Linked DNA regions of Homo sapiens: region 2 is linked to region 1. The links come from fine-mapping of genetic effects on gene expression. A gene starts in region 1. The other region holds a variant in brackets. All regions are shown on one strand. Distances are from middle to middle.

Region 1 (4,390 bases):
TTTATTATTTATTTATTTATTTATTTTTATTTATTTTTTTTGAGACCGAGTCTTGCTCTGTTGCCCAGGCTGGAGTGCAGTGGCGCGATCTCGGCTCACTGCAAGCTCTGTCCCCGGGTTCACGCCATTCTCCTGCCTCAGCCTCCCGAGTAGCTGGGACTACAGGCGCCCGCCACTACACCCGGCTAATTTTTTTTGTATTTTTAGTAGAGACAGGGTTTCACCGTGTTAGCCAGGATGGTCTCGGTCTCCTGACCTCGTGATCCGCCCATCTCGGCCTGACTTTTTTATTTTATAAAAGTAAAATAGGCCAGGCAGGGTGGCTTACGCCCGTAATCCTAGCACTTTGGGAGGCCCAGGTGGGAGGATTGCCCGAGCTCAGGAGTTCGCGACCAGCCTGGGCAGCACAGTGAAACCCCATCTCTACTAAAATACAAAAAATTAGCCAGGCGGGGCGGCATGCGCCTGTGGTCCCAGCTACTGGGGAGGCTGAGGTAGAAGAATTGCTTTAACCAGGGAGGCGGAGGTTGCGGTGAGCCGAGATCATGCCACTGAGCTCCAGCCTGGGCAACAGAGCAAGATTCTGTCTCTAAATAAATAAATAAACAAATAAATAAAATAAAATAAAATAAAATAAAAAGAAACGACCCTCTGAAAATAGTGTGTTTTGTTAATTTGCTTTGCTTTTGTTGGTTGGTTTAATCTATGTACATTCTCCATTGAGATTCTAGTACCTCAGTGTGGAGAAAATGGATACACCTATCACAAGGAAAGCTGCCAATACATTCCTGGGAAAGACAAGCCCCGTTGCTGAGCTTTCTGCCTGAGACTATCACAAACCTCCAGTGAAACCTAAAATAACTTGAGATTTGTTGTGCCTTTTTTTTTGAGACATGATCTTACTCTGTCACCATGGTCCCACTCTGTCACAGGCACCACTCTGTGGTGAGATCTTGGCTCACTGCAGCCTCAACATCCCGGGCTCAAGTGGTCCTCCCACCTCAGCCTCCCGAGTACCTGCCACTACAGGCATGAACCACTGTGTCCAGCTACTTTTGTTTACTTTTTGTAGAGACAGGGTCTCACTATGATGCCCAAGCTAGTCTCAAATTCCTGGGCTCAAGCAATCCTCCTGCGTCAGCCTCCTGAAGTGTTGAGATTAAGGCATGAGCCACAGCGAATGACTCAAGTTTCTACGCCACTCTGCTAATATTCTCAGTAATATGGATTCCGCATATGTGTCGAATGCTTTGTGATTTTCAGACAGGGGTTTCTCTCTTGTTAATTACTCCTCCTTCTCTCACCCAAGTAGCAAGGTGTCTCCAACACCAGCAATTCCTCCCTAGCGCTGTGGAAGAAAGAATGAAGGGGCCGGGCGCGGTGGCTCACGCCTGTAATCCCAGCACTTTGGGAGGCCGAGGCAGGTGGATCACGAGGTCAGGAGATCGAGACCATCCTGGCGAACATGGTGAAACCCCGTCTCTACTAAAAATACAAAAAAATTAGCCGGGCGTGGTGGCGCGTGCCTGTAGTCCCAGCTACTCGGGAGGCTGAGGCAGGAGAATGGCGTGAACCTGGGAGGCGGAGCTTGCAGCAAGCCGAGATCGCGCCACTGCACTCCAGCCTGGGCGACACAGGGAGACTCCGTCTCAAAAAAAAAAAGAAAGAAAGAAAGAAAGAAAGAATGAAGGATTGCAGTCACGTATGTGAGTGCTTCCTAAGTGCTTGAGGTGTCGCACACATGATCTCATAAGCTCATGTTCCTCGCAGCAACCCTGCCACCTGGGTCCCGCTATTGTCCCCATTTTACAGAGGAGGAGACTGAGGCTCGGAGACGTTAAGTAACTTGCCAAGGTGACAGCGCTGGTTACGTGGAGGAGCCGAGGACCCAGCGAAGTGAGCAGGGCAGACATTCTCCATTTTATTGAGAGTCACAGCGAAGTCGGACGCCCCAGGCCCTAGTGACAATTTGCCTGGGAGTTTTCCAGATCCTCAAGCCTCGGGGACTCTGTCGCGCTGCCCCCAGCAGCTGCTTTCTGTTTGGCCGCAGGCTCCAGAAAACACCCTCAAAGAGACACCCGGATCTTCCATCACCTACGATGCAAATTCTACGGCTGGAAAGCACGAGGGTGGAAAGGAAAAAGTTGCGTTCTTTTTACCCCGCTCTGGATTGCACGGTGGAAACTCCGTCTCCACGGAAACGCACCTCCTGGCAGCGGTCGCCAGGGGCGGGGCTCAGGGCGGCTCCTCCCCGGGGCTGCAACTGTTCCCAGGCTGGGGCGATTGCCGTCACCCCTGAACTTCCCCGTTCCTCTTCTCGGCTGCCTCCTTTTCCGTTGTCCCTTCGCGCCCCAAACCACATCCTGGAGCGCACTCTCCAGCGTGGCTGGCAGCGGGGACGGTGCGCCGGGGCGCAGGCCCAAGAGTCGCGTGCGCGGCCCCTTGCACCATCCCCCCGGGCCCACCCCCGGGCCGCGCTGATTGGGCAGGTAGGGACTCTGCCCAGCGGAAAGTTTTGGGTGCCGGGAGGAAGTCTAACCTTTGGGAGACTCCAAGACAGCAGCTCCGAGGTCGGCGGGGGTCTGGGTGGCCATGGAGGAGCCCCCTGTGCGAGAAGAGGAAGAGGAGGAGGGAGAGGAGGACGAGGAGAGGGACGAGGTTGGGCCCGAGGGGGCGCTGGGCAAGAGCCCCTTCCAGCTGACCGCCGAGGACGTGTATGACATCTCCTACCTGTTGGGCCGCGAGCTTATGGCCCTGGGCAGCGACCCCCGGGTGACGCAGCTGCAGTTCAAAGTCGTCCGCGTCCTGGAGATGCTGGAGGCGCTGGTGAATGAGGGCAGCCTGGCGCTGGAGGAGCTGAAGATGGAGAGGGACCACCTCAGGAAGGAGGTGGAGGGGCTGCGGAGACAGAGCCCTCCGGCCAGCGGGGAGGTGAGTGTGGGAGCGAGGGTTCCGGGCCCACGGCGCCTGCGGGGCGTAGGAGGGCACCTACTGGCAGGGAGACGCCTTCCTTTTCTTTTCTCTTCTCTTTTCTCTTTTTTCTTTTTTTAAGAGATGGGATCTCGCTGTGTTGCCCAGGCTGGTCTCAAACTCCTGGCTCCAAGTGATCCCCCAGCCTCAGCCTCCTAGAGTGCTGGGTTTACAGGTGTGAGCCACCCTGCCTGGCCAGAATCTGTATTTCTAACGAGTTCGCAGTTAATGCTGATGCTATTGGCCCAGGGTCCACAGTTTGAGAACCTTTGACCTAGAGCAAGAAACACTTTTTTTTTCTTTTGACACAGGGTCCTGCTCTATCTCCCAGGCTAGAGTGCAGTGGTGCAAACACGGCTCACTACAGCCTTGGCCTCCTAGGCTCAAGCAATTCTCCTGCCTTGCCCTTCCAAGTAGCTGGGAGTACAGGCATGTGCCACCATGCCTGGCTAACTTTTTTGATGTTTTGTAGAGATGGGGGTCTCACCGTTACCCAGGCTGGTCTCAAACTCCTAAGCTCAAGGAATCCTCCCACCTTGGCCTCCCAAAGTGCTGGGCTTGTGGATGTGAGCCACCACACTTGGACAAGAAACACATTTTACCTAAAGAGAAATTAGTGCATATGACCACAAAAAGACATAGACAAGAAGATTCAGAGCAGCTTTAGTCTCAGCTGCCAAACTGGAAACACTCTAAATGCAACCCAATTGAGTTTTGAAATTGTGATATATGGAATACTATGCAACAGAGAAAAAGAACGGGGTGCTGATACACACAGCAGTGTGAATGAATCTCACAGATGTAACATTGAGAGAAAGAAGCCAGGCACTAAAGAGAAACTACTGTAGATTTTTTTTTTTTTTGAGTCAGAATCTTGCTCTGTTGCTCAGACTGTAGTGCAGTGGCGTGACCTCGACTCACTGCAACCTCCACCTCCTGGATTCAAGCGATTCTCCTGCCTCAGCCTCCTGAGCAGCTGGGATTGCAAGCGTGTGCCACCACGCGTGGCTATTTTTTTTTTTTCTTTTTTGGTAGAGACGGGGTTTCACCATGTTGGCCAGGCTGGTCTCAAACTCCTGGCCTCAAGTGACCCACCCACCTCAGCCTTCCAAAGTGCTGGGATTACAGGCCTGAGCCACAGCACCCAGCCCTACTGTACATTTAAATAAAATTCATGAACAGGCAAAATAATTTATAGTTATAGAAGGCAAACTGGTGGTGGGGGGAAAAGAAGGGAAATTGATAGAGAGCTAGAAGTGTCCCATATCTTAATCAGGGTATGGATATAGGGATCTACACATATGTTAAAAATCATCTGGCTGGGTGCTGTGACTCACGCCTGTAATCCCAGCACTTTGGGAGGCCAAGGCGGGCAGATCACAAGGTCAGGAATTTGAGACCAGCCTGGCCAACATGGTGA
Region 2 (4,390 bases), 130 kb after region 1:
GGTATGTGTAAAAGATCCATGCATAGAGAAGCAGTTTTCAGCACTGGCTGCTGATATGATCAGCTCTCAAGCTTTTAAAAATTACTGAAGTCTGCTGGGCACGGTGGCTCACGCCTGTAATCCCAGCACCTTGGGAGGCTGAGGTGGGTAGATCACAAGGTCAGGAGTTTGCAACCAGCCTGGCCAATATGATGAAACCCCATCTCTACTAAAAATACAAAAATTAGCCGGGCCTGGTGGCGGGTGCCTGTAGTCCCAGCTACTCGGGAGGCTAAGGCAAGAGAATTACTTGAACCCGCGAGGCAGAGGTTGCAGTGAGCCGAGATTGCACCACTGCACTCCAACTTCGGCGACAATAGAGCAAGACTCCGTCTAAAAAAATAAAAAAAAATTGGTCGGGCGCGGTGGCTCACGCCTGTAATCCCATCACTTTGGGAGGCTGAGGCAGGCGTATCACAAGGTCAGGAGTCCAAGACCATCATGGCCAAGATGGTGGAACCCTGTCTCTACTAAAAATACAAAAATTATCCAGGCATAGTGGCGGGCGCCTGTAATCCCAGCTACTCAGGAGGCTGAGGCAGGAGAACTGCTTGAATCTGGCAGGGGGAGGTTGCAGTGAGCCAAGATTGCATGACTGCACTCCAGCCTGGGCAACAGCAGAGCAAGACTCCGTCTCAAGAAACAAAACAAAACGAAAAATTACTGAAGTCGGGTGGAGCTCAGACATCGGTAGTTTTCCAAAGCTCCCAGACATTCTAATAGTGCCACTACAGTTGAGAATTCAGTGTTGGAGAACTAACTTTCTTATGTACTGAATTGTGTTCATACTTTCCATAAGTGAGGCTGAAGATGCAAAAATTCAATTTGACAAACCTCTTTTGAGCGTGTCCTGCAGTGGTGCTAATTGCTAGAGAGAGAAATGGGCAGATTACAGCCTTGTTGTGAGGACAGTGTAAGAGTTAAGAAGGAAGACTTTTAGAAGAGAAAGTGGGACTTGAACTAAGCCTAGATGAATAAAAAATTTTTAATTATCATTTGCATGAAAACGTTTATCTTTTGTCATTACAGATTATAACAACATAGGAAAATTCTTAAATAGAATTTTAGGCATGGAGGTGCATCAGCAGAATGCGTTATTTCAGTATTTTGCGGACACACTTACTGCAGTTGTTCAAAATGCCAAAAAAAATGGAAGATATGATATGGGAATCTTAGGTAAGTAGGGAAAATTTCCCCCCCACAATGTCCCCAGGGAAAATGTGGAGTGGAGAAATTCTTTAAACGTGTGTACCTGATAAAAATGTTCTTTTTACATTTACATGTTTCTTTTTCTTGTTCAAGATCTTGGTTCTGGAGATGAAAAAGTGCGGAAAAGTGATGTTAAAAAGTTTCTGACTCCAGGATATTCAACCTCTGGCCACGTAGAATTATACACAGTAAGTTTAGAAAATGTTGTGAAGTATCGTCTTCCCATGAGATGCATTTACAGAAATGAGTTTAAATTTCGTTGTTTCTCTTACAGATTAGTGTAGAGAGGGGAATGTCATGGGAGGAAGCTACCAAGATTTGGGCTGAGCTGACAGGACCAGACGATGGCTTTTACTTGTCATTGCAAGTACGACTTTTCCTTTAAATTCTATTCAGATATATAATACTTTTTAATGGCCAGCATTGTAATTGTCTCTTCACTTTGTACCTGTTTCCCAGTTGTGTTTAGCTTTGTCTATTTTGGTAATTTATCATTGTAATTGTGTGTTTGTCCATTTGTGTTATGTTTTTACTTAATGCATTTTAAAGGATGTTATTAGGTGTGGGTTTAGAATTGTTACATTTTCTTCTTTTTTTTTCTTTCTGAGACAGAGTTTCGCTCTTTGTTGCCCAGGCTGGAGTGCAATGGCACGATCTCAGCTCACCTCATCCTCTGCCTCCCGAGTAGCTGAGATTACAAGCATGTGCCACTAGGCCTGGCTGACATGTATTTTTAGTAGAGACGGGGTTTCTTCACTTTGGTCAGGCTGTTCTCAAACTCCCGACCTCAGGTGACCTGCCTGCCTCGGCCTTCCAAAGTGCTGGGATTAGAGGCGTGAGCCACTGTGCCCAGCCTAATTTTTTTATTTTTAGTAGAGGTGAAGTTTCACCATGTTGGCCAGGCTGGTCTCGAACTCCTGACCTCAGGTGATCTGCCTGCCTTGTCCTCCCAAAGGAATTATAGATGTGAGCCACCACACCTGGCTGAATTAACTTTTTTTTGAGATTGAGTCTTGCTGTGTTACCCAGGCTGGAGTGCAGTGGTGCGATCTCGGCTCACTGCAAGCTCCACCTCCCGGGTTCATGCCATTCTCTTTGCCTCAGCCTCCCGAGAGTAGCAGGGACTACAGGCGCCTGCCACCACGCCTGGCTAATTTTTTTTGTATTTTTAGTAGAGACAGGGTTTCACCGTGTTAGCCAAGATGGTCTCGATCTCCTGACCTCGTGATCTGCCCGCCTTGGCCTCCCAAAGTGCTGGGATTACAGGCTTGAGCCACTGCACCTGGCCAACATTTTCTTAAATTAAGCATTTTTCATAAGACAGAGACTTACTTTAGTCTTAATAATGCTTTATATCTTTAAGACTCATTTTTCA[G/T]TTAGTAAAATAGCTACATTCTTTCAGTTATGATTTGTCTCTGTGGACAGAACTAAGGGGTGTGTGTGCGCACACATCTATACATGTATGTGTAGATACTCAACAGTATGTAGATATTCAGCAGTATCTTGAGTTTCATATTTACTTACTCAGATCCAAGACAACAGAAATTTTATTTCGCCAGTTCTCTAAGATATTTGGGGTTGTGTTGTTTCGTTTTGTTTTGTTTTTTGAGGCAGTTTCAATCTGTCGCCCAGGCTGGAGTGCAGTGGCACGATCTTGGCTTACTGCAACCTCCGCCTCCCAGGTTCAAGCGATTCTCCTGCCACAGCCTCCCGAGTAGCTGGGACTACAGGCACGCACCACCACGCCTGGCTAAATTTCTTATTTTTAGTAGAGACAGGGTTTCACTGTGTTAGCCAGGATGGCCTCGATCTCCTGACCTCAGGTGATCCGCCTGCCTTGGCCTCCCAAAGTGCTGGGATTACAGGCATGAGCCACCGCGCCTGGCATGTGGCTAATTTTTTAATTTTTCTTTTGTAGAGATGGTGTCTCACTATGTTGACCAGGCTGGTTTGAAACTCTTGGCCTCAAGTGATCCTCCCACCTCTGCCTCCCAAAGTGCTGGGATTACAGGTGTGAACCACGCTGCCTGGCCCCTTCGTTCTTTTTTACAAGGCTGAGTAATATTTCATTGGTTGTATATAACATATTTTGCTTTCTGTTTACAAATATTTATGGAGTGACTGCAAGTAAGACCTGGTTCTTGCTCATATGAAGTACCTACATGTATGATGATGGCACAGGCAGGATGAAGTCATAAATGATCTAGGGCAGGAGTTGCTAAACTTTTTCTATGAAGGTCTGATATGTATGGTTTTGTAGGCCATATGTGGTCTATATTGCATGTCCTCTGTGTTTTCCTTCCTTCCTTTCTCTTTTTTTTCCCACCTTCCTTCATTCCTTCTTAATCTTACTTCAGTTTAGGAGTGCCAAGCTAGATTTATTCCACAGGCCTAAGCTGCTGATCCTTGACCTAGAGAAAAGCTCTCAAAGGATCTGGCTCCTAGTTGAGTTGGGGTTTTTTGGTTTGGTTTTGTTTTTTGTAATGGGATCTCGCTCGCTCTGTCACCCAGGCTGATAAGCAGTGGCGTGCGTGATCATGGCTCACTGCAGCTTCAACCTCCTGGGCTCAGACAATCCTCCCACCTCAGCCTCTTAAGTAGCTGGGACCACAGGTACACTCCACCACATTTGGCTTTTTTTTTTTTTTTTTTTTTTAATGCAGTTGATGTCTCACTGTGTTGTCCAGGCTGGTCTCAAACTCCTAGGCTTAAATGATCCTCCCACCTCGGCCTCCCAAAGTGCTGGATTACAGTTGTGAGCTACTGTGCCTTGCTGGTTTTGGGGTTTTTGAAATACTGATTGAACTGTAGGTTGATTTGCATGTCATTATAAGAAACAGTACAGATAAACATCTTGCATACTTTTATCAGTTACCCCAGTGGTAATATTTTTTAAAACTGTAGTGTAATATCACAACCAAGATGTTGATATTGGTAGAATTCAAGTATTTTACTCGGCTATCCCCCATAGATGCAATTTTGATTGGTCCACATAAGGTGTTGGTTATTTTCAGGACAGTCTCGAACTCCTCCTGGGCTTGATCCATCCTCTCACCTTGTCCACCTGAATAGCTGGGATTACAGGCATGCACCACTGCACCTGGCTCTTGGTTATTATTTTTAAATTGAAATTATTGCCAGA

The links. PIP is the estimated chance that this variant, and not a neighbour inherited with it, causes the effect. A credible set is the group of variants that fine-mapping cannot tell apart.
Region 2: its variant is the best candidate, but not a certain one, in a credible set for the expression of RILPL2 in whole blood (TOPMed, PIP 0.76).

What each region holds. Positions count from the first base shown.
Region 1 is chr12:123,434,623-123,439,012 of GRCh38, reverse strand. It overlaps RILPL2 (Rab interacting lysosomal protein like 2), which reads left to right and starts at 2,329. Exons shown (of 4, transcript NM_145058.3): 1 at 2,329-2,931. The coding sequence starts at 2,593. RefSeq lists a silencer at 2,323-2,582 and an enhancer at 2,424-3,353.
Region 2 is chr12:123,306,535-123,310,924 of GRCh38, reverse strand. SBNO1 (strawberry notch homolog 1) reads left to right here. Exons shown (of 32, transcript NM_001167856.3): 26 at 1,069-1,215; 27 at 1,342-1,436; 28 at 1,523-1,615. Among named protein-coding and RNA genes, the nearest start is that of CDK2AP1, 37 kb to the right of the region's middle. The variant G/T (reference allele first, on the strand shown) is at 2,624.